Linked DNA regions of Homo sapiens: region 1 is linked to region 2. Evidence: fine-mapped expression QTL. A gene starts in region 2. The other region holds a variant in brackets. All regions are shown on one strand. Distances are from middle to middle.

What was found. PIP is the estimated chance that this variant, and not a neighbour inherited with it, causes the effect.
Region 1: its variant is fine-mapped to the expression of PCCB in whole blood (TOPMed, PIP 0.92).

The regions. Positions count from the first base shown.
Region 1 is chr3:136,303,354-136,316,059 of GRCh38, reverse strand. The region is part of intron 9 of PCCB (propionyl-CoA carboxylase subunit beta); the gene reads right to left. Among named protein-coding and RNA genes, the nearest start is that of PCCB, 59 kb to the right of the region's middle. The variant T/C (reference allele first, on the strand shown) is at 7,353.
Region 2 is chr3:136,241,934-136,254,639 of GRCh38, reverse strand. PCCB (propionyl-CoA carboxylase subunit beta) reads right to left here and starts at 4,300. Exons shown (of 15, transcript NM_000532.5): 1 at 4,082-4,300. The coding sequence starts at 4,264. RefSeq lists enhancers at 3,826-3,875, 4,506-4,565, 3,795-4,661.

The DNA.
Region 1 (12,706 bases), 61 kb before region 2:
TTTAGTAGAGATGAGATCTCGCTATGTTGCCCAGACTGGTCTCCAATTCCTGGCCTTGAGCAATCCTCCCACCTTGGCCTCCAACATGCTGTGATTACAGGCGTGAGCCACTGTGCCCGACCATCACTCTCTCTTTTATATATATATAAACACATAAGAACATTCTTTTTTATAACTACAGTGATATTATCAAAATCAGGAAATAAACATTACCACAATACTATTTTTTTTTTGAGACAGGTCTTGCTCTGTGACCCAGGCTGGAGTGCAGAAGCATGATCACAGCTCACTGCAGCCTTAACCTCCAGGGCTCAAGCAATTCTCTCACCTCAGCCTCCCAAGTAGCTAGGACTACAGGTATATGCCACCAAAAAAAAAAAATTATATTTTTTGTAGAGACAGGGTCTTGCTATGTTGCGCAGGCTGGTCTCAAACTCTTGGCCTCACGCAATCCACCTGCCTCAGCCTCCCAAAGTGCTGAGATTACAGGCATGAGCCACTGTGCCCAATTCACAATTTTCTTTTGTTTGTTTGAGACGGAGTCTCGCTTAGCTGCCCAGGATGGAGTGCAGTGGCACGATCTCGGCTCACTGCAATCTCCGCCCCCTGGGTTCAAGCAATTCTCCTAAGCCTCCCGAGTAGCTGGGACTACAGGCACGCACCACCATGCCCAGCTAATTTTTTTGTATTTTTAGAGATGGTTTCACCATGTTGGTCAGAATAGTCTCGATCTCGACCTCGTGATCCGCCCACCTCGGCCTCCCAAAGTGCTGGGATTACAGGCGTGAGCCACCGCGCCCGGCCACTATTTCTTATTATATGACATTATTCAAGTTTGCCAATTGTTCCAATAGTATCCTTTATAGCAGCACAAGCAACAAAATTCTGGTCCAGAACCTGAGCCAGGATCACCTGGTGCTTTTAGTGGTTATATCTCTTTAGGCTCCTTTAACTTTCCCCCTCCATCTTTGTCTTTCATAATCATGACATCTTTGAAGACAACAGACCAGTTAATTTGTAAAGCATGACTTCTATTTGGGTTCCTTTGGTATTTCTTCATGTTTAATTTTGAGCTAAGCCTTTCCACAGGAGTACCACAGAAGGAGCATTCTCATCAAGTGGCACAATGTGTTGATTTGTCCATTAATGATGGTGATATCTGCAGGTTTCCTTGTAAAGTTACTATTTCTCCAATTTAATAAGAATTTTGTGAGGAAATACGTTGAGACTACATAAAATCCTGTTCTTCAAACTTTAATCATTAATCTAGTTCTTCATCCACTAGGTTTAGCATCCTAGCAGCCACCAAGCAGCCATGATTCTTGCCTGACTCATTACTGTCATGATAGCTGCCAAATGGTGAGTTTTTTTGTTTTGTTTTTTTGTTTTTGTTTTTGTTTTTCTTGAGACAGGGTCTTACTCTGCCACCTAGGTGGGAGTGCAGTGGAGCAACCTCAGCTCGATGCAACCTCCACCTCCCAGGCTCAAGCGATCTTCCCACCTTAGCCTCCCAAGCAGCTGGGACCACAGGTTCATGCCACCATACCTGGTTAATTTTTGTATTTTTAGTAGAGACAGGGTTTCACCGTATTGGCCGGGCTGGGCTCAAACTCCGAAGCTCGAGCAATCCGCCCTCCTTACAAGTGTGAACCACCACACCCAGCCCAAAGGGTGAGTTTTCCAATTCCACTTTTCTTCTCCATTTATTAGCTGACATCTACCACAAGAAAGATCTTTGCCTTTCCCATTTACTTATAGGTATCAATATGAACTTATAGATTGTTTTATTCTATGGATTATAATCTTTCACCATCATTTTATGTTTAAATTGTCCTATATTTACCAAAGTTCCTTCATGCTGGTTCCTGTGTCCTTCTAAAGTGTCCCCATCATTCTTTGAGCACTACCTTATATTTTGGAAGTATCTTACTTTCTGGTTCATCTTGGTTTCTTTCCTGCCCCAGCCCTACAATCAGCCATTTCTCCAAAAGGCCTGGGTTCCTTTTAGGGATGTGTGTGTGTGTGTGACTCCTTCTAAAACGTCCAAAGTCCAGCTATATGAAAAACCATGAGTTCATGCTGATAATTCTAATCCTACTCCAGTGCAACTATAGGGTTCATTCTAGATTTTTTTCTCTTGCCATATTCACAACTCCCTTCTCCGATAGCAGAATCTGGCTGCTACTACCCTCAAAATGTACTTATTTATTCGATCCTCAAATACAGAGAAAATGGTTTCAGAACTGCTAACTTAGCTACAAAAAACAGACCTACTAGCTAGAATTTTTTTACAGCTATTTTGGTCTTTAGATTAAAGGTATATAGTCAAAATATAGGTTCAAAAGACACTCATTTAAAACAGGTTCATGTTTGTATTTCATTTTAAAGGTTTTCCCCAGTCTTGATTTTATTTTTTAATATGTAAAATACTAATACAGTTTAATAGTGTTCCTTCCCCATCCCTTCCACCCTAGTCCCACCTACCCTGTTATTAATCTCATTATTTTCTGATGTATTATGTGTGTGTTTGCATTTGTATCTTTTAATTTACCCTTCTTACATGGAAAGTAACAGTACAGACACTCTTGCACTTTGAATTTTTTCACTTAATATGTCCTGGGAATCACTTCCTATCAGTTCATAGAGATCATCATTCTTTTTCACTTCTGCATAGTACTGTACTGTGTGATGTACCAAAGTTTATTCAACCAATCTACACGTGGCTTACATTATTTTAAAATTTACATTTAGGTTATTTAGAGTATCTCGCAATTACAAATGACAACGTAATGGTCGTAACCTCGTACATCTATAATTTTGTATGGTGGGAAGTGTATCTTCAGGGTAAATTGCTAGGAATGGGATTGCTGAGTTAAAGGGCAAATGCTAATTTAGTCCTGGATAATACCAGAGTCCCCTACCAGCAATGCACAGGAGTGCCTGCTTCTCCACTGACTTTCCAATGGAAAGTGTTTTCGGGGTTTTTATTTTTAGCCAATCTAACATATGAGAAAATACTCAGTGTAATTTGAATTTGTATTTCTAGCATTATGTATGAAGTTGAAAATCTTTTGACATGTTTAAGGTCCATTTTATATCTTTTTTGTGAGCTATCTATCCGTGGTTTTTTGCCCACTTTTCTATCAATTTTGGTTGTTAATCCCTCAGCATAAGAGCTCTTTATTAAGAATATTCATACTCTGGGATACATGCTGCCAAGAGTTTCTTCTAGCATATTGGTTGCCTTTTGATTTTATTTATAGTTTTTTGCTATGAAGAGTGGGATTTTAAAATTTTCACAGTCAGCTTTGTCTATCTTTCACTGAAACTAGTTGAGTTACAGTTCAAAAGCATTTCTAAACCTTCCCCTAAGGTTTCAGAGGAATTCATCTGTGTTTTCTTTTAGTGCTTGTATGGATTCACAGATTATATTTAGTTTTCTGACCCATTTGTAGTTTATTTTTGTACATGGTGTAAAGTATGAATCTAATTTTATATTTTCCTAAATGGCTAGTCAGTTGCCCCAGCATCATTTATTAAAAGCTAATTTTTGCCCCTGAGATTTGATAAAATATCATTATCATATACAGTTGGGCACTACACAAAGAGGTTCTGGTCAATGACAAACTGCCTATAGGAAGGTGGTCCTATTGTAATACCCTATTTTTACTGTACCCTTTTTATGTTTAGATACATACTTACCATTGTGTTACAACTGCATACAGTGTTTGGTACAGTAACGTGCTATACAGGTTTGCAGCCTAAGAGCAACAGACTATACCACAGATCCTAGGTGTGTAATAGGTTATACCATCTAGGTTTGTGGAAGTACACTCTATGATGGTCGCACAAAGAAACTGCCTAATGATGCATTTCTCAGAACACATCCCTGTTGTTACGCAACGCGTGACTGTACTAAAATTCTGTATGTACTTGAGTCTATTTCTGGCTCTTTTATTCTATTCCACTGGTCTATTTATGTGCCTGTACCACAGTTTTAACTATAGGATGCTGTAATATAAAGCATGGCTAGTCCCCACTTACAGCTTTTCTTTTGCAGTATATTCTTAGGTATTCTTGCACTTTTATTTTTCCATGTGCACTTTTGTATAAACTTATCTAGTTCTAGTTTTTAAAAACTGTTTATTGGGATTGCCTTAAATTTATAGAACAACTTAAGAATCACCAGTTTGTTAATAACATTAACCCCAGGAACAAGGAATGTCTTTCCATTTGTTCAAGTCTATTTTAATGTTTTGTTTTGTACAGACAAGGTCTCACTATGTTGCCCAGGATGGTCTCAAACTCCTGGGCTCAAAGGATCTTCCCTCCTCAGCTTCCTAAAGTGCTGGGATTACAGGTGTGAGCCACCATGCCTGGCCTACTTTTGATTTTCAAAAGTGTTTTTAAGATCACCCTGGGCTGGGCTTGGGGGCTCACACCTAAAATCCCAGCACTTTGGAAGGCCAAGGCAGAAGGATCGCTTGAGCCCAAGAGTTCGAGACCAGCCTGGGCAACATAGCAGGAATTCTTCCTACAAAAAAAAAAATATTAAATCAGGTGTGTGTGGTGATGCATGCCTGTAGTCCTGGCAATGTGGGAGGATTGCTTGACCAGGAAGTTGAAGCTGCAGTGAGTTGTGACTGGGTCACTGCACTCCATCCTGGGTGACAGAGTGAAACCCTGTCTAAAAAAATAAATTTGCCCTAAAACAGCTTCTGTACATTCCTGTTAAAATTATTACTAAATATTTTATCTTCCTGTTGCTATGTAAGAGAGGCTTTTACTCTACCATAATTGGTTACTGCTTGCGTATATGAAGATTTCTATATGTTAATTTTGTATCCTGTTCCTCAAGTATTGTTTTAGTATAATAATGCATTCTCTAGAGTTTTCTTGAATACTACAATACTATATCACCTACGTTACAGCTTGACATCTCTCCCAAGGCTTTTGTCTCTAATTGGTCCTCTTCTTGGATAACTGTATTGGTTAATATTTCCAGAACAATGTTAAATAATAATGGGAATAATGGGCATCCTATACTTGTTCCTAATCCTAGTAGAAGCTAGTCTTTATTAGGTGAGATGCAGGCTTTTGAAAAGGTCTATACCAAATTTTATTACATTAAGAAAGTATTAATTCCTATTTTATGAAGTCTATCAGGAATAGGTATTGATGTTTCTTAAAGGTTTTCTTCAGCGTCTATATAAATAATTGTGATTTTTCTCCCCTATATGTGTTAATACAGTATATTATTGAGTTTCCTAGAACCAATCTTGCATTCCTAGAATACATCCCAGTAGGCCACAGATATAATTTTAAAGAAATAAGCAATATGAAACTGAAATCTTAAGTACTACCTTTATCAGGTTCAGGTACTGATATCATACTTCTTTTAAAAAATTTTGGAAGGTTCTTGTGTGTTTTGTTTACTTTCTATGCTCTGGAAGAATTTATGTGGCACTAGGACTATTTGGCCCTTAAAGGTCTCAGAAATTCCACATGAAACTATTTGGGCCTGGTGTTTGTTTGTTTGAGACAGAGTCTTGCTCTGTCACCCAGGGTAGAGTGCCGTGGCACAAACATGGTTAACTGCTCCCTCAACTTCCTGGGCTCAAGTGAACTCCCACCTTGGCCTCCCCAGTAGCTGGGACTACAGGTGCATACCACCATGCCTGGCTTTTTTTTTTTTTTAGATGGAGTTTCGCTCTTGTTGCCCAGGCTGGAGTGCAATGGCACGATCTTGGCTCATCGCAACCTCCGCCTCCTGGGTTCAAGCAATTCTCCTGCCTCAGCCTCCCGAGTAGCGGGGATTACAGGCATGTACCACCACACCTGGCTAATTCTGTATTTTTAGTAAAGACGAGGTTTCTCCATGTTAGTCAGGCTGGTCTCGAACTCCCGACCTCAGGTGATCCGCCCACCTCGGCCTCCCAAAGTGCGGGATTACAGGTGTGAGCCACCTTGCCTGGCCCTAATTTATTTTTTGTAGAGACAGAGTTTCGTCATGTTGCCCAGGCTGGTCTCAAATTCCTGGGCTCAAACAATCCTCCCGTTTTAGCATCCCAAAATGTTGGGATTATAGGCATGAGCCACTGAATCCAGCTCCTTGTGCTTTTTGGTGAAGTAATTCCTTCCGTGGAATTTGGTGGTTCATTTAAGCTTCCTATCTCTGATGGGATCAATTTCTGTTAAACTGTGTTTTCCAAACAAATTTTCCAATGTATCTTGTCTCTTAGAATTTTTTTTTTTTTTGAGACAGGGTCTCACTATGTTGCCCAGGCTGGAGTATGATGGTGCAATCACAGCTCACTACAGCCTTGAACTCCTGTGTTCTAGCAATTCTCCTACACTGAGGCCTCTCAAGTAGCTGGGACTATAGGTGCATGCCACCACACCCAGTTAACTTTAAAAATTTTTGTAGAGACAGGGACTCACTATGTTGCCCAGGTTGGTCTTCAACTCCTGGCTTCAAGCGATCCTCCCACCTCAGCCTCCCAAAGTGCTGGGATTATAGGCATGAGCCACCACACCTGGCCTCTTAACGATTCTTAAGTTTCTTCTTTTTCAATGGTTATTCCCTTTCTCACTTCATACTTCTGCTTTTACTGTCTCTTTTTTGAAGTTAGCCAGTGTTTACTAATTGCAGCTATTCTTCTATTTCCATCATAAATTTCTGCATTTATCCTTATTAAATTATTTCTTGGATTTATTCTGAAATATTTTACAGGGTTTTTTCCCCTGGCTTTTCCAGTTGGGAATCTGTTTTTCTTTTCTTTTTTTTTTTTTTTTTTGAGATGGAGTCTTGCTCTGTCACCCAGGCTGGAGTGCAGTGGCACGATCTGGGCTCACTGCAACCTCTGCCTCCCAGGTTCAAGCGATTCTCCTGTCTCAGCCTCCTGAGTACCTGGGATTACAGGCACATGCCGCCATGCCTAGCTAATTTTTTGTATTTTAGTAGAGACGGGGTTTCACCGTGTTGCCCAGGCTGGTCTCAAACTCCTGAGCTCAAGCAATCCACCTGCCTCGGCCTCCCAAAGTGCTGGGATTACATGTGTGAGCCACCGCACCTGGCCTGTTTATTTTCCTTCTCTGATTTTTACTGTTTCAGGAAACAGATTTTCATCTGTTCATCGTTTTAAACATATTCTATAGGTTTTGACACATAGTGTTTTGTCTTTTTTTCTTTTAGAATTCTGTCATTTGGTTTCTATTTTCCCCTTTCATCCAAGAATTGTTTACTAGAAGATTTATTTCCCGGCTGGAGGCTACTTTTGTTTTAGTTGCTACAAAAGTTTCTAATTTTAAGCAATGTTGTTTCACAGTATTTTTTGCTCTATGGGATTTAA[T/C]GATGTTTTCTTTCTGATCTAATACATATGATCAACTTTTGTGAATATTCCATGTGCACTTCAGAATAAGATTTATTGTTCATTACCAGGGTGTAAAGTCCAAAAGAAATGTGTAAGATCTACCTATTACGTTATTTAGGTCTCCTAAATTATTACTTTTGTCCATTTGACCTGCTTTGTAATAACAATGCTGTGTATACATCTCCTATTCAGTCTTTCTACCTAAGTCTGTTGAATCTCCTATAGTTTCAGCTTTATAAAGATGGTGGTTATTTCTGGCACAGATATTCGATATGCTTTACATTATCATTGTGAACTATGGCTTTTAGCAGTTGAAAATGTCCTTCCTGGGAAGCTGAGGCAGGAGAATCACTTGAACCTGGGAGGTGGAAGTTGCGGTGGGCTGAGATTGTGCCACAGCACTCCAGCCTGGGTTACAGAGTGAGACTCCATATCAAAAAAAAAAAAAAAAAGTCCTTCCTTATTATGGTTAATACCTGAACTTTACTCTGTTCAATATTAGTGTCACAAATACTGCTGTTATTGTTTCCATTCTCCCAGTATATTTCTGCCCATTCCTTATTTTTAGCCTTTCTGAATCACATTTATATACTGAATATAATTGGTCCATAACAAATTAGACATATTTTTAACAAGTGAATCAAACCCATCCATATTTATTGGTATGACACTTTTTTACTATCATATTATTATTATTATTATTATTATTTTGAGATGGAGTTTCACTCTTGTTGCCCAGGCTTGAGTGCAATGGTGCAATCTCGGCTCACCACAACCTCTGCCTCCTGGGTTCAAGCGATTCTCCTGCCTCAGCCTCCCGGGTAGCTGGGATTACAGGCATGTGCCACCACACCTGGCTAATTTTGTATTTTCAGTAGAGATAGGGTTTCTCCATGTTGGTCAGGCTGGTCTCAAACTTCCAACCTCAGGTGATCTGCTCGCCTCAGCCTCCCAAAGTACTGGAATTACAGGCATGAGCCACCACGCCTGGCCTGTCATATTATTTTTTATAATTACTATGTATTCTATATTTATTGTCTTTTACCTTTTTTTTTATTTTTCCCCTTTATCATTACCCACAATGATATATACTGTTTATGTGAGTAGTATTAAAGAATGTTTGTATTTTTTAGTCTAGTGGTTACCTTTGTAATTATGCCTTTTGATGCCTTTAGTTCATTTCCTTAATCTTTTATTAACTAGTTTGTTTTTAATGATATCTGTTAGCTAACAATAATCAGTGAGCTGATTCTGCAATATTCTTCCCCTCTCTTCTCCTCCCATTTTTCAGTTGCATTTTTTTCTGAAACTAAACATATAGTACTTATACATTGTTCTCTACCCTCATCCCCACTTCTGTTTTAGTCTTAGAATTATAATTAAGTATATTAGATAATCACTACCAATCCTTTTGTTGAAATTTCTCCAGCTACCTCTTGATTGGATAAAGCTCATTCTCTAGTAGATTCCTCAAGAAAGCCTCATTAACACAAACTTCCCTCGGTTCTTGGTTTAAAACTGGTTTTCTGCAGTCTTAATACATGAAGGTGAGCTTTGCTAAACATAAAATCCTTAGTCACAGATTCTTTCCTTCAGCCTCCTGAAAGTGCTTTTCTGTTGTTTCCTTGCTTTTCTACGTTGCTTTGGAGAAGTTGGATGCCATTTTATTCTCTTGCCCTTGTAAGTCATTTGATTTCTGCCCAAAGGTCCTGAGTATTTCTCCTTATTTTAAAAATCGAACAGTTAATATTTTCTCTAGTTTGACAATTCTGGGTCAATTTTCCCACGTGCTCAGTGTGCTCTTTCATTATATAAATCTGAATCTTATTTTATTTCTGGACTATTTTCTTGGATTACAGTTTTAAATATTAAGTCTGTTCTACTGGTTTTTCTTCAGACACTCCAATTATATGTATGTTCATTCTTCTTTGCCTTTCATTGTAGTCACTTTTTTCTCATACATTTAACTAAGAATTTTAAAAAATTAATCCCAGATGTGACAATATAACCAATAATTGTATTAAAGGTATCTGTACTATTTTAAAATTTTATAATTGCATATATGTACAACGTACATGTTTTCATATATGTATACAGTGTAGGATGACTAAAGCTAGTTAACATATCCACCACCTCACATACTTTTTTGTGGTGAGAATGTAAAATCTACTTTTACTTTTTTATATTATTTCATTCATTTTTTAGGCTATTTATCTACTTTTCTTTAATGTTCCTTATTAAATTTTCATTGAAATACATTCTCCTTTGAGCACCTTGCAATTTTGATATCATTTCTGATGCAATTTTGTCTCCCCTGCCCATTTTCTTAATTCAATCAGCTTTAACTTCTTACTATTATCTCTCCATCTTGTCATTAGTTTCTGAATTTTCTATTTTTACAACCTCAAATGCTTATCAGGGGCTACTGCACTCAGATTGAAGCATAGTCAGCTGCTTCATGATTGACTTTTACAGTGAAGGGAGTTCCATCAACTGACATGTTTCATTCTCACTTTTTGTTTTCTTATTGTAGCTTTATATAAATGAAAACTATTTGTATCTGCATTCTCCAAAGCTGGCAGATGAACAAATGAACAAAAATCCTAGTTCAAGAGCACCCTCTTCTGTCAGTATAGCAAAGTGCAGTTTAGTTCATGGGTGACTAATTTTAGGGAGGGTGATGGGGAAAGATGTAGTGTCCTTCAGTGTATTCGATTTTGTATGTCTTGCAGGTACATAAATGTAACCCCCTTGCTTCATTTTCCCTTCACAATTTCCAAAGGTACCTCTCTCTTTCCTTTGTACTCTTCTTCCCCAGAAGTAATGCCTTCCCCTGACTACCGTATTGATTTGTGTGTGCACTCTTAAGTAGCTTCTAAAGTCACTGCTTTGACTCTTTTCTAGCATATTCACTTTTTTTCTTTCTTTTTTTTTTTTTTTAGAGACAGTTTCACTCATCGCCCAGGCTGAAATGCAATGGTGCAATCTCAGCTCATTGCAACCTGTGCCTCCCCAGTTTAAGTGATTCTCCTGCCTCAGTCTCTCCAGTAGCTGGGATTACAGGGACACACCACCACACCCGGCTAATTTTTGTATTTTCAATAGAGACAGGTTTTCACCGTGTTGGTCAAGCTGGTCTCGAACTCCTGACCTCAAGTGATCCACCCGCCTCAGCCTCCCAAAGTGCTGGAATTACAGGCATGAGCCACCACGCCCGGCCAGAAGAAGTTTTTTTAAAAAGCAAAATAAAAAAGTGTAATAATACAATACTTTTTGAGTTAAAAGTAAATATATGGTCTAGGTGCAGTGGCTTACACCTCTAATGCCAGTAGTTTGGGAGGCCGAGGCAAGTGGATCACTTGAAGCCAGGAGTTTGAGACCAGCCTGGCCAACATGGCGAAACCCCATCTCTAAAAATACAAAAATTAGCCAGGCATGGTGGCACACACCTGTAATCCCAGCTACTTGAGAGGCTGAGGCAGAAGCATCTCCTGAACCTGGAAGGTGGAAGTTGCAATGAGCCGTGATCTCGCCACTGCACACTGGCCTGGGCAACAGAGTTAGACTCTGTCTCAAAGAAAAAAAAAAGTGAATTTGGAGAGAGGGATGTTCCAGAGGTAATTAAAGTTAAACGGGGCCATAAGAGGGGGACCCTAATCTGTTAGGACTGGAATTCTTTTAAAAATTGGAAAAGCTGGGTTGGCGCCCGTGGCTCATGCCTGTAATCCCAGCACTTTGGGAGGCCGAGGCAGGCGGATCATGAGGTCAGGAGATCAAGACCATCCTGGCAAACATGGTGAAACCCCGTCTCTACTAAAAATACAAAAATTAGCCAAGCGTGGTGGCGGGTGCCTGAAATCACAGCTATTCAGGAGGTTGAGGCAGGAGAATCACTTGAACCCGGGAGGCAGAGGTTGCACTAAGCTGAGATTGTGCCACTGCACTCCAGCCTGGCGACAGAGTGAGACTCCATCTCAAAAAAAAGAAAAGAATTGGAAAGCCAGCCGGGCACAGTGGCTCACATCTGTAATCCCAACACTTTGGGAGGCCAAGGCGGGCAGATCACGAGGTCGGGAGATCGAGACTATCCTGGCTAACACGGTGAAACCCCGTCTCTACTAAAAATACAAAAACAAAATTAGCCAGGCATGGTGGTGGGTGCCTGTAGTCCCTGCTACTTGGGTGGCTGAGGCAGGAGAATGGCGTGTACCCGGGAGGCAGAGCTTGCAGTGAGCCGAGATCACGCCACTGCACTCCAGCCCGGGCGACAGAGCCAGACTCCAACTCAAAAAAAAATAAATAAATAATTGGAAAAGCCAGCCTGGGCAACATAGTGAGTTGCCATCTCTACAAAAAATTTTAAAATTAGCCAGATGTGGTGGCATGCAGCTATAGTCCCAGCTACTCAGGAGGCTGAAGTGGGAAGATCACTTGAGCACAGGAGGTCAAGCCTGCAGTGAGTCAAAGTCACACCGCTGCACTCCAGCCTGGGTGACAAAGCAAGACCCTGTCTCTGAGGGAAAAAAAAAAAAAAAAGACGAAGAGATACCAGAGATCTCTTTCTGCATGCACTGAGAGCAAAGACCTCGTGAGGACACAGCAAGAGTGTAGTCCAGAAGCCAAAGAGACACAGACCTCAGAATGAAGCCAACCCTGCCAACACCATGATCTTGGACTTCTAGCCTCCAGAACTGACAGAAAATAAATTTCTGTTGTTTAAGCTATGCAGTTTATGGTATTTTCTTATGGCAGCACTAGAACACTAATACATAAAGCAAATACAGGCCAGGCACGGTGGCTCACACCTGTAATCCCAGCACTTTGTGGGGCCAAGGCAGGTGGATCACCTGAGGTCAGAAGTTCAAGACCAGCCTGGCCAACATGGCGAAACCGTGTCTCTACTAAAAGTACAAAAATTAGCCGGACATGGTAGGGCTCGCCTGTAATCCCAGCTACTTGGGAGTCTGATGCAGGAGAATTGGTTGAACCCAGGAGGCAGGGGTTGCAGTGAGTAGAGATTGTGCCACCGCATTCCAGCTTGGGTGACAAGAGCAAAACTCTGTCTCAAAAAAAAATTTTTTTTAAATAAATAAATAAGTAAAGCAAATACAACATCGATACCAAAACCTGATTTTAAAATACCTTAAAATATACGCACTAGTATCACATAATATCAATGCAGAAACTCAAAACATTAGCAAACAGAATATACAACTTCAGGAATGAAGGAAGTTTAGTATTCAGAAATCTACTAGGATAGATTTATAAATAGATCTAAGGAAGAAAATCACATGATCATCTCCAAAAACACTGAAAGTGCATTCAACAATATT
Region 2 (12,706 bases):
AATCACTTGAACCTGGGAAGCGGAGGTTGTGGTGAGCTGTGATCACTCCACCGTGCTCCAGCCTGAGCAACAAAGCGAGAACCTGTCTTTTAAAAAAAAAAAAAAAAAAAAAAAAAAAAAAGCTAGCCGCAGTGGCTCACACCTGTAATCCCAGCACTTTGGGAGGCCAAGGCAGGCGGATCATGAGGTCAGGAGATCGAGACCATCCTGGCTAACACGGCGAAACCCTATCTCTACTAAAAATACAAAAAAAATTAGCTGGGCTTGGTAGCACCCACCTGTAGTCCCAGCTACTCGGGAGGCTGAGGCAAGAGAATCGCTTGAACCCAGGGGGCAGGGGTTGCAGTGAGCCAAGATCGCACCACTGTACTCCAGCCTGGGTGACAGGGTGAGACACTGTCTCAAAAAACAAAAACAAACAAAAAAAAGCCGCCATTGCTTGGGCTCCCAAGCTCTCAGCCCCAAGCAAATACCCTAGCCTACCGTCCCCTTCCCCAACAACAACAAAAAAAACCACATACCTCAAATTGGCTATTATTTCCCCCTTAGGAAAGTAGCCAAAGCTGGTGAGGTTGTGTTTAAAATAACAAACAAAAATCAGGCAATCCTATACACTGTCACGTAAAGTAGAATAAGTTTTTAGGAAACCAACTTGGCAACATATATACAGATTTTTAAAATATATTTATACTGACCAGGCACTGCAGCTCACACCTGTAATCCCAGCACTTTGGAAGGCCAAGGTGGGAGGACTGCTTGAGCCCAGGAGTTGAGACCAGCCTGGGCAACAAAGCGAGACTCTGTCTCTACCAAAAAATAAAATAAAATAAAATAACTAGCAGGGTAGGAGGCTGAAGTGGGAGGATCACTGGAGCCCAGAGGTCGAGGATGCACTAAGCCATGATTACACCACTGCCCTCCAGCCTGGGTGACAGAGTAAGACCCTGTCTCAAGAAAAAAAAAAAAAAAAAAAAATTCTGTCATCCCAGCACTTTGGGAGGCCGAGATGGGAGGATCACCTGAGGTCAAAAGTTAGAGACCAGCCTGCTCAACATGGTGAAACCCCGTCTCTACTAAAAATACAAAAATTAGCCAGGTGTGGTGGCACGTGCCTTAAATCCCAGCTACTCAAGAGGCTAACGCAGGAGAATCACTTGAACCTGGGAAGCAGAGGTTGTAGTGAGCCACGATCACTCCACCGCACTCCAGCCTGAGCAACAAGGTGAGACCCTGTCTTAAGAAAAAAAAAGAGGCCATGTGCAGTGGCTCACGCCTGTAATCCCAACACTTTGGGAGGCCGAGGCAGACGGATCACGAGGTCAGGAGATCGAGACCATCCTGGCTAACATGGTGAAACCCCGTCTATACTAAAACTCCAAAATTATAGCCAGGTGTGGTGGTGGGCACCCGTAGTCCCAGCTACTCAGGAGGCTGAGGCAGGAGAACGGCATGAACCCGGGAGGCGGAGCTTGCAGTGAGCCAAGACCGCGCCACTGCACTCCAGCCTGGGTGACAGAGCAAGACTCTATCTTAAAAAAAAAAAAAAAAAAAAAAAAACCTCCATTGCTTGGACTCCCAAGCTCTCAACCCGAGGCAAATACCCTAGCCTACTGTCCTATCCCCCCCTCCCCGAAAAAAACAAAAACAAACAAAAAATACCTCAAATTGGCTATTATTTTCCCCTTAGGAAAGTAGCCAAAGCTGGTGAGGTTGCATTTAAAAAAAAAAAAACAAAACAAAAAACAGGCAATCCTATACACTGTCATGTAAAGTAGAGTAAGTTTTCAGGAAACCAATTTGGCAACATATATACAGATTTTTAAAATATATTTATACTGACCAGGCACTGCGGCTCACACCTGTAATCCCAGCACTTTGGAAGGCCAAGGTGGGAGGACTGCTTGAGCCCAGGAGTTGAGACCAGCCTGGGCAACAAAGCGAGACCCTGTCTCTACCAAAAAAAAAAAAAAAAAAAAATTAGCTGGGTAGGAGGCTGAAGTGGAAGGATCACTGGAGCCCAGAAGGTCAAGGATGCAGTGAGCCATGATTACACCACTGCCCTCCAGCCTGGGTGACAGAGTAAGACCCTGTCTCAAGGAAAAAAAAAAAAAAATTCTGTCATCCCAGCACTTTGGGAGGCAGACGCGGGTGGATCACCTGAGGTCAGGAGTTCAAGACCAGCCTGGCCAACATGGTGAAACTCCATCTCTACTAAAAATACAAAAATTAGCCAGATGTGGTGACACATACCTGTAACCCCAGGTACTCTGGAGGCTGAGGCAGGAGAATTGCTTGAAGCTGGGAAGCAGAAGTTGCAGTGAGCTGCTGCACTCTAGCCTGGGCAACAGAGTGAACTCTGTCTCAAAAAAAATAAATAAACTTACACCCTTTGACCCACTAATTCCTCTTCTGGGAAAATCTACGGAAATGGTCAAAAATTGTTTTAAAAGGGGTGCAGGGCCGGGTGCAGTGGCTCACACCCATAATCCCAACACTTTGGGACGCCAAGGTGGGTGAATCACTTGAGGTCAGGCGTACAAGACCGGCCTGGCCAACATGGTGAAACCCTGTCTCTGCTAAAAATACAAAAAAAAAGTTGCCAGGCATGGTCGTGGGCACCTGTAATCCCAGCTACTTGGGAGGCTGAGGCAGGAGAATAGCTTGAACCTGGGAGGCAGAGGTTGCAATGAGCCAAGATCGCACCATGGCACTCCAGCCTGGGCAACAAGAGCAAAACTCCGTATCAAAACATAAAAATAAAAAGGGGTGCAGGAGGGGGTTCATATTAAATCAGCCTCCTAAGTTAACTTTGGCAAAAGAAAAACAGCTTCTGGAGGCTTCATCTAAACCTAGTAGGATCTACCTGGGAAAGGGCTAGGCGATGTTCCAGGGAAGAATTGAGCAATAGGCCCCAACAGAAAGAGTGTACAGGAGCACTGACAGGCCTTTCCAGAGGATGATCTAACATCTCCCTCAGCCCTAACAGAGTAGGTTAGAAGTAGCCCCAGGGGAGAGAAAGCACTCCTAGCACCACAAACCATCACTAAATTTACATTTCACTCTCAAGTGTCAAAAGGAACTGTTACCTTTGGACCCTTGTCAAATGCGAATTTATGACATCTGAATCAATATTAGACAAATATAGAGCTGTTCAAATCTCCTCACTTTAAGACCCCATCCCTCCCCCAGTGCCTCCCTCATGGTTGTGAGTTGTGCCTGAATACTCTTCATCTGTAAGAGTTTCACTTCTGCACCTTCCCGTTGGTTAATTCGTTCAGCACAACGGTCCAGACTCACCCACCAGTCACGGACACACTGGGCAAGCCTGGTTTCAAGTCAGGGATCACCTCTCCAAAATGGGCCGCCCAGCTTATCTCTGAAGGCCAGCTGGATTCTCGCCTCAAAACCCAGGCGGTGGGTGGCAGTGTTTCAACTGCTCAGTCCAGCCAAACATCGAGAGTAGCCTGCGCACTCCCAGAAAGGCCACCTGCTTCCGACACGTGCCTTTGCTACCCATCAAGGCGAGGCATGCTAAGGCCCTAAAGAGCTCGACCAGGCATTCTGCGGGCAGAAGTTCCACAAGTTCCTGCACGCGCACATCCCCCATTTCATGTTAGTGGAGTATGCCCAAGTTCAGTTTTCCTGCTTCCACAAAGGAGAAAGAACCTACCATCACTCTTTCATGGGGCACGAGAATAAGCACATGGTTTTTACTGAGCGCCTATCATTTTGCTATCTATGGTCTAACGATACACTTGTGAAGGAAGAATTATTATTAAAATGACCCACAGAGATTTAATAAGTTGCCCAAAAGCTTATGTTAAGTGTTGAGCTGGCTAGAGACGAGCCAGATCCGTCTAAATCCCAAGGGTTAAACAGTATGAAAAAGCACACAGGTGCTTCTGCTGGTTATACCCGCCTCCACGAGAAACGCTACAGGTTTTCAAGGTGAACACCCTTGCTCCGGCCCCTCCAGGCACCGTGCGGATTGGCAGGGAGGCCTCGGACGCCGCAAGCCGGGCACGCAGTGATAGGTCGCGGACGCCAGGGGCGGGACTCACTTAGGCCCCTCAGGACTCACTCGCTTGTGCTGCGCGTCAATACGGCGTTGGCCCCCTCCCAGCAGCGCGGTCCGGCGCTTGTTTTCGATGCGTTCGTTAACAGAGGTGGCCTGGCTGCAAAGGCTGCGGACCGCGGCGCGGAGACCGCTCGCCAGAACGCTGAGCCTTGCCCCGACCGCCGCCACCCGTAATGCCGCCGCCATTTTTGCTGTGCCGGCGCGTCCCCTACCGGCGCACCTGAGTACGCATGTGCTAAAGCGTGGGTACGGCGCTTGCGCAGCATCGGCTGGCTGTAGGGAGCCGCGGGGGCTGGACTACAGAACCTGCTTGGGAGTAAGGCGTGAGAGTTCGAGACCCGGTGCTGCCCGAGGAGGGTCGCGCAGAGAAAAAGTACAGGGCCTGCCTGGCTGCACAAAAAAGGGACATAGTCCTTGCTCTTCTCTGACCACCTAGACCCTTAACTTTGTCGTCCCACTTCCTACAGAAAATGATTATAAGATTTAACCAACATTTATTAAGCATTGTGCCAGGTGTTGCTTTTTGCACTTACCATGCACTAGCTTACTATCTGGATTTCACAGATGAGGTAAATCAAGCACAGAGAGATGAGTGATTTGATCAAGAGGCAAGACTGAGGCCGAGGTAGGTGAGCCCAGGAGCCCAAGACCAGCCTGAGCAATATAGTAAGACCCCACCTCTACAAAAAAATTAAAAATTAGCTGGGCATGGCGGCTTGCACCTGTGACCCCAGCTACTCGGGAGGCTAAGGCGGCAGGATGGCTTGGCCCAGGAAGTCGAGGCTGCAGTGAGCCGTGATTGCATCACTGCACTCCAGCCTGGGCAAAACCCTGTCTCAAAAAAAAAAAAAAAAAAAAGCCAAGACTGACAATGTGGTTGGCCAGGATTCAAACTCAGAGACCTATCATTAATATGTGCCAGATAATGAGCACAGGACCCTTAACCTCTAATCAGTAGTTCTCAAAGTATGGATCCCATTAAAGAAAAAACTATTCATGACACTTAATTATTCATGTTTAAGAATGGTAAGGCAAACTTTATTCAGGCCCAATCTGACAGAGGTAGGGATAGAGTTTTGCCATAAGTCAGAGCGATTGGGCTGAATATAGCAAAGTGGTAATTTATAGCTAAGGGGCAGTGTGTGGAAGTCAGTGGATGGAAAATTACTAAGAGGAAACATTGGCGGGGAATCTGGCTAAATTGACCTAACAGGATTCCTGCCCAAGGCAGGTCAGGGTAACTGAACATCACCTGGGGGATGGTGGCGGTATGGGTCAAAACCAGATATGGAGAGTAATCAGATATCAAGAATGGAGGATTCTGGCTAAACTGACTTGGCAAGTTTCTTGCTAAAATGGAATTCCACAAGGAATGACATGGGAGCCCACACTCAGGCCTAGTCAAAGAGAGAGCTCAGAAGAGCCTGACCAATGTTTGATCAAGGAGGGAATCTTGTCAATCCAGCAACTTCAGTATCACCTGGGAGTGAGTTGGAAATGCAAGCTCGAATTCTCAGAACTTACTCCAGACCTTTAAATCAGAAACTCTGGGGCTGGGGCCAGCCATCTGTTTTAGCAGATGACCTTTAGGTGATTCTGATCTGCTTGCTAAAGTTTAAGAACCACTGCTCTAGGAATTTGGAATTGTACTGTTGAGAGCTTGACCATCTGTTTCTCCCACTAACAGGCAGGTCTTCAAGACAAAGAACATGGTTTATATTTCTCATTTTTAGCCACAGAAAACTGCTAAAGTTGATCATGAGCCCTTCCCAGATCCAGCTCATAGCCAGGGCCTTCATAAAGTACAAATTCTGACCTATGACCTTAATGTTAATGCAATTCAACTCAGAAAACATTTTTGAGCACCTACCATGTGCCAAGAACTAAACATCAGTACTGATTGCATTTCCTGGAGTAGTAACAGTTCATCTAGATAGAGAGGGCAGCTTAGAGGCCAAAGCCTCTTGGCTAGGCAAAGCCCACCTGTATCTGTATAACTCCGTAATGGGTACTCTTGACCTTGCATTTGGGTCCTTGCTTTAAAGACTTTACCAACCTAGAGAGGCAGATGGACAACCTAGAGAGGCAGATTGCCTTGGGAGCACAAGAGAGAATTTGAGTAAGGCTGAGTGTGTTGAGGAGAGTTTCTCCAAGAAAGCATCCATATGCCAGGGAACAGAAGCAGTGTGAGCAAAGGCCTGGCATGTTCAGATTCACATACACAGACACACACACATACTTTGTTGTGTTCCCAGCTTTTGGGGAAATGGTGGTAAATGAGACTGGAAAGTGAGAATGGCATTAGATTGTGAAGAGTTTTTTCATGTTCAGAAATTGGGACTTGCTTTTGGCCTGGGGGCAGTTGGACTCCCTTGTCCCACAGTGCCTTGTAGGTTCCTTACATAAAGCACATCTCACACTGTGTTAAGATTGTTTAGCTGTCTTCCTAGACAGACTCTCCAGCCAAAGGTCAGGGACTGCAGCTGATTTGCTCACCACTGTGGTCCCAGCACCTGGAACAAGGCCCAACGCAGAGAAGGCCTTTAGAATGTATTTGTGAAATTGAATCGAGCTAGCAAATAGGCAATTGCATGTGAGTCCAGAGGTTTTCGCCCCCTCCTCTATGTCTTTTCAGGCTCTGAAACCTGCTCAGGTATCATCTCCTCCATGCAGTCTATCCTGATCCTCAGAAGCAAGGAAGTTTTTCTTATTTAACTTTAGATAACCAGTGCTTAGTAGAAAACCCAACACAGGGAGGCTCACTGAACCTAACTGCTTCCTCCAGCTAGTCCTCTCTCCCTCCACTTCTTTCTCACTGTCCTAATGCCCTGCCTATGGGCACTCCATAGTTCTATAGATCTGTAATGTTATTCCTCAGACCTCACATGCAAGCTCCAGCTTGGGGCAGGTGGGTGGGGGTAGGAGGAAGTTGGAGGTAGGAGGCAATTATCCAGTAATTGCCCTTTAATACCACTATGCTCCAGGCTGCTTTCCTGTCCTTAGTCCCCCCGCTGGTGGCTGTGTTTGAGTTTTTTTCTCCATTGTGAGACAGGAGTCACCCTGATCTTTTAGTTTTCTCACTTTCTGAGACAGTAGAGCTGAAAATTTGGAGTCAACACCTGGGTACAAATCTTGCTTCTGCCCTGACTTCCTGGATAACACAGGGTCATTCACCTAAGGATCTCAGTTTCCTCTGTAAAAGTGGAGAGGGGGTGATCTGTGAAACCCTTGTGTTCTGAGTTTGTTACCCATGACATAATAACAAGAGCCCAGTCATTGGTGTTAGACTGTCCTGAGGTTAGTTCCAACTCTGCCAGTTACCTCTGTGTGACTTGGACAACTTGGCCTCAGTTTCCTCTTCTGTAAAATTGGAATAATAATAGTTCTACCTCAGAGTTGTAAGGTTTATTTTTATTTATTTATTTATTTATTTTTGAGACAGGGTCTTGCTCTGTCACTCAGGCTGGAGTGCAGTGGCTCAATCTTGGCTCACTGCAACCTCCCCATCCCAGGTTAAAGCGATTCTCCTGCCTCAGCCTCCCAAGTAGCTGGGATTACAGGCGTGTGCCACCACGCCCGGCTAATTTTTTTGTATTTTTTGGTAGAGATGGAGTTTTACCATGTTGGCCAGGCTTGCCTTGAACTCCTGATCTCAAGTGATCCGCCTGCCTCAGCCTCCCAAAGTGCTGGGATTACAGATGTGAGCCACCATACCTGGCCAAGTTATAAGGTTTAAATGTAAGCAGCTAACATAATGCCTAGCAAATGTGAAGTACTCTTTAAGTGTTACCTAATAGATTACCAGTAGTATCCTGAGATAGTCTTATTTACCAGAAATTTTCATGAGTTCTCCTTAAAGTGAAGGACAGTGATACATTTCAGAGTATTTGTTCACTTCCTTCCACAAGGAGTGAGGATGGATGGGGGACAGTGAGGTGCCAACATTTTCTGGCCATTCTAGGCCAGTCAGTTACAACTTTCAGCAAAGATGAGTGCAATGGTAGGAAGGAGGAAATGGAAGAGGTCACAATTTAGTCTGGGTCTTCAGAGAAGCAATTGCCAAGAGGGGAATTAACATGCAAGAAATCAATTAAGGGGGCCAGGTGCAGTGGTTCACTCCTGTAATCCCAGCACTTTGAGAGGCCAAGGCAGGGGGATCACCTGAGGTCAGGAGTTCAAGACCAGCCTGGCCAAGATGGTGAAACCCCATCTCTACTAAAAAGAAAAATTAGCCAGGCATGGTGGCGCACGCCTATAATCCCAGCTACTCGGGAGACTGAGGCAGGACAATCACTTGAACCTGAGAGGTGGAGTTTGCAGTGAACCGAGATCACGCCACTGCACTCCAGCCTGGGCGACAGAGCAAGACTCCATCTCAAAAGAAAGAAAGAAAGAAAGAAATCAGTTAGAGGAACCACCTGTGAGAAAAAGTGGGGAGACAGTGGGAGAAGCTGGGAGGCCCATGAGATTGCAATGCAAATCTGACCTCCAGTCAGGAAGAGAGGGAAGGAAGGAAGGTGGGTGGGAGCTTCTCAGAATACCGTGCAGTTTTAAGGAAAGTTCAGCAAGGTTGTTGGGGAGTACAGGAGCCAAAGTATTTTTGCCGCAGCTATGCTGGGAGCAGCCCGTGGAAGGTGTAACCTCAGTGCAAATTTCAGCAGTGAATTTCAGAGCAACAGCTGGGGCTCTCAGTTACTATGTTCAGTACAGTCCAGGTGTCTTCTCACAATAGAGTTTGGGGTGGTTAGGAGTAAAGGGAGTGAGAGAGAGGAAATTTGTGAGAATAGCTGTCATCCATGTGGAGAGAAGAGATTTTAAAGATTTTTTTTTATTTTTTGAGACAGGGTCTCACTCTGTCACCCAGGCTGGAGCGGATTGGCAGGATCACAGCTCACTGCAGCCTTGAACTCCTGGGCTCAGGTGATCCTCCCCACTCAGCCTCCTGAGTAGCTGGGACTACAGGTACATGCTACCATACCAGCTAGATTTTTAAGATTTTTGTTTTGCATTAATTATGTACTTCTCTCCTTGGTGTGTGTGTGTGTGTATGTGTGTGTGTGTTTTAACTGAATAAAAAATGAAGTGCTTAAAATTTACGTTTACCTTTATTTTTTCTTTTTTTGAGATAGGGTCTTGTTCTGTTCCCCAGGCTAGAGTGCAGCATTGTGATCATGGCTCACTATAGCCTTGACCTCCTGGGCTCAAGCAATCCTTCACCTAAGCCTCCCCCATAGCTGGGACCGCAGGCAGATGCCACCAAGCCTGGCTAATTTTTTTTTTTTTTTTTTTTTAAGACAGAGTCTCCTTCTGTCACCCAGGCTGTAATGCTAGAGTGCACATCTTGGCTCACTGCAACCTCTGCCTCCTGGGTCCAAGAGATTCTCCTGCCTCAGCCTCCCAAGTAGCTAGGACTACAGGTATGTGCCACTGTGCCTAATTTTTTTGTATTGTTAGTAGAGACGGGGTTTCACCGTGTTGGCCAGGCTGGCCTTGAACTCCTGACCTCAAGAGATCCTCCCGCTTTGGCCTCCTGAAGTGCTGAGATTACAGGTGTGAGCCACCACACCTGGCCCTAATTTTCTAATTTTTTGTAGAGACAATGGTTTCTCTATGTTGTCCAGGTTGAAAATTCACATTGTTATTGCTGAACTGTGTTTCTTTGATGCCGAGATTAGAACCCAAGAGTCCTAGCTTAAATTCTACTTAAAATTCTTATTAAGACCTGGAGCCTAGGCCATGCGCAGTGGCTCACATCTGTAATCCCAGCACTTGGGGAGGCTAAAGTAGGAGGACTGCTTGAGGCCAAGAGTTTGAGACCAGCCTGGGCAACATGGCAAGACATTATCTCTACAAAAAATTAAAATGTTAGCCAGGCATGGTGGTGCACACTTGTAGTCCCAGCTATTCCAGAGGCTTGGGGAGGAGGATCCCTTGAGCCTAGGAGTTTGAGGCTGCAGTGAGCTATGATGGCACCACTGCATTCCAGCCTGGGTGACAGAGCAAGACTGTCTCTAAAAAGAAATAAAATTTAAAAAATTTTAAAAGACATGGAACCTCATTGTCCCCAGACTACACACATTTTCCAAGCCACCTTGAGAAATCCTTATCTTTTCTGACTCCCTGGGCTCTCTGGGAAAGCGCAGGCCGGTAGCAGTGGATCACGCCTGTAATCCCAGCACTTTGGGAGGCCGAGGCAGGCGGATCACAAGGTCAGGAGATCGAGACCATCCTGGCTAACATGGTGAAACCCTGTCTCGACTAAAAATAAAAAAAAAATTAGCCACGCGTGGTGGCAGATGCCTGTAGTCCCAGCTACTCAGGAGGCTGAGGCAGGAGAATGGCGTGAACCCAGGAGGCGCAGCTTGCAGTGAGCCAAGATTGTGCCACTGCACTTCAGCCTGGGCCACAGAGCCAGGCTCCATCTCAAAAAAAAAGAAAGAGCAGAGCTGGTTTGTTCCTTTTTCCAGAGCTGCTTCTAGCTGTTTCTATTTTTTTTTTTTTTTTTTTTGAGACGGAGTCTCGCTCTGTCACCCAGGTTCGAATGCAGTGGCACCACCTCGGTTCACTGCAAACTCCGCCTCCCGGGTTCATGCCATTCTCCTGCCTCAGCTTCCCGAGTAGCTGGGACTACAGGCGCCCGCCACCACATCCAGCTAATTTTTTTTGTATTTTTATTAGAGATGGGGTTTCACCATATTAGACAGGATGGTCTCGATCTCCTGACCTCGTGATCTGCCCACCTCGGCCTCCCAAAGTGCTAGGATTACAGGCGTGAGCCACCACGCCAGGCCGTGCCCGGCCACAGTTTCTATTCTTGCTGAGCTGCTTTTCACTTGCCGTTTTTACCCTCTGTTGGTACCACCCTTTCAGCATTCCCCTGACCTCCACCACATGCCCTCCTCTCCCTTGTCCTGTGATTTCCACATCAGGCTCACTTTTCCCCTTCCCTGTCTTCCACTGCCATTCTCAGACTCCATTCAGAGTCTTCATGCTGATACCCTCTGATTCTATGGCCTAGGAATTCCTTAGCCTCCTCAACATGAAGGGACTTCAACTCTGTTCCACTCCAGCCACCCACACACTGGGCTTTGTAATTACTGAGAATTGCTTCACGTCTAGGAGTGGAACCTGGCAGTTCTCTCTACCACCTCCTTTTCTGCTACCTTTCCCACGCCCTTCACACTGAATCTGGTCCATCCTTTCCGTGTAACCTTTTAATTCCCTCATTCTGCCTACTGGCCTCCCTCAAGCCCTTGAATTTCCATTTAGATCACCATGCCTTGGCCCAAGCCTTCTTTTGGATCACTCTGATTCTGCTAACAGACTGCCCATGGTAGCTGGCAGAACTCACAGAAATTATGCTAGGTATTTTAATTTCCTTGGGCTGCTGTAGCAAATTACCGCAAAGTTAGTGGTAAAACAACAGAAATGCGTTCTCTCATGGTTTGGGGAACCAGGAGTCCAAAATCAAGATGTCTTGAGGGCTATGCTCTCTCCAAAGGCTCCAGGGCAGAATCCTTTCTTGCCTCTTCCAGCTTCTGGAAGCTCTGGTGTTCCTTGTTTTGTGGCATCATGACAGCCATCTCTACCTCCATCTTTGTGTGGCCTTCTTCCCAGTATCCTGGTATCTGTGACCTCTCTCCCCTTTTTCTTTTGTTCTTTTTTCTTTTTTTTTTGAGATGGAGTCTCGCTCTGTCACCAGGCTGGAGTGCAGTGGCATGATCTCAGTTAATTCCAACCTCTGCCTCCTGGGTTCAAGTGATTCTCCTGCCTTGGCCTCCCGAGTAGCTGGGACTACAGGCATGTGCCACCACGCCCAGCTAGTTTTTGTATTCTTAGTAGAGATGGGGTTTCACCATGTTGGCCAGGATGGTCTTGAACTCTTGACCTCGTGATCCGCCTGCCTTGGCCTCCCAAAGTGCTGGGATTACAAGCGTGAGCCACTGTGCCCAGCCTCCCCTTTTTCTTATGAGTCACCAGTCATTGAATTTAGGGCCCATCCTAAATTTAAGATGACCTCATTTAGAAATCCTTAACTTAATTATATCTGCAAAGACCCTATTCCCAAATAAGGTCACACCCACAGATACCAGGTCTTAGGACCTGGACATATCTTTTAGGGGGGCACAATTCAACCCACTATACTAGGTCACCACAGATTCTTGCTGTTCCTTGCTGTTCTCCCCAACCCCATTTCTGCATGTCCAAAGCCCATGTATCCTGTCCCAAACACCATTTCTTCCACAAAGCATGTCCACAATTTCTCAGTTATAAGCACCTCTTCTTCCTCTAAACTCTCATCTGCTTTTTGTTTCTCATTTGTAGCTTTTATCAAGTTCTACATTTTAACAGTGCTGTCTATGTGAGAGAGAATTCCACTTTCTCTGGTTACCTGAGTGCTCCCCAGGTGTCTGGTCACCAAACTTCATGTGGAAATCTTTGGTCTGGCTAGAATCATTTATGTTGTTCCTGCTGACACTGAATATGCAGCCCTGGGCTCTGTACTGTATGGTTCCTGTCTCTCTCTTCTTCCCTAACCAGTTGTCTGTCTTTCTGTCTCTTAGCCTCTCCTTTTCCTCTGTCCTCAACTTAACAATCTGCCCCTTCTCTACTTCCGCCCCTCAGTCT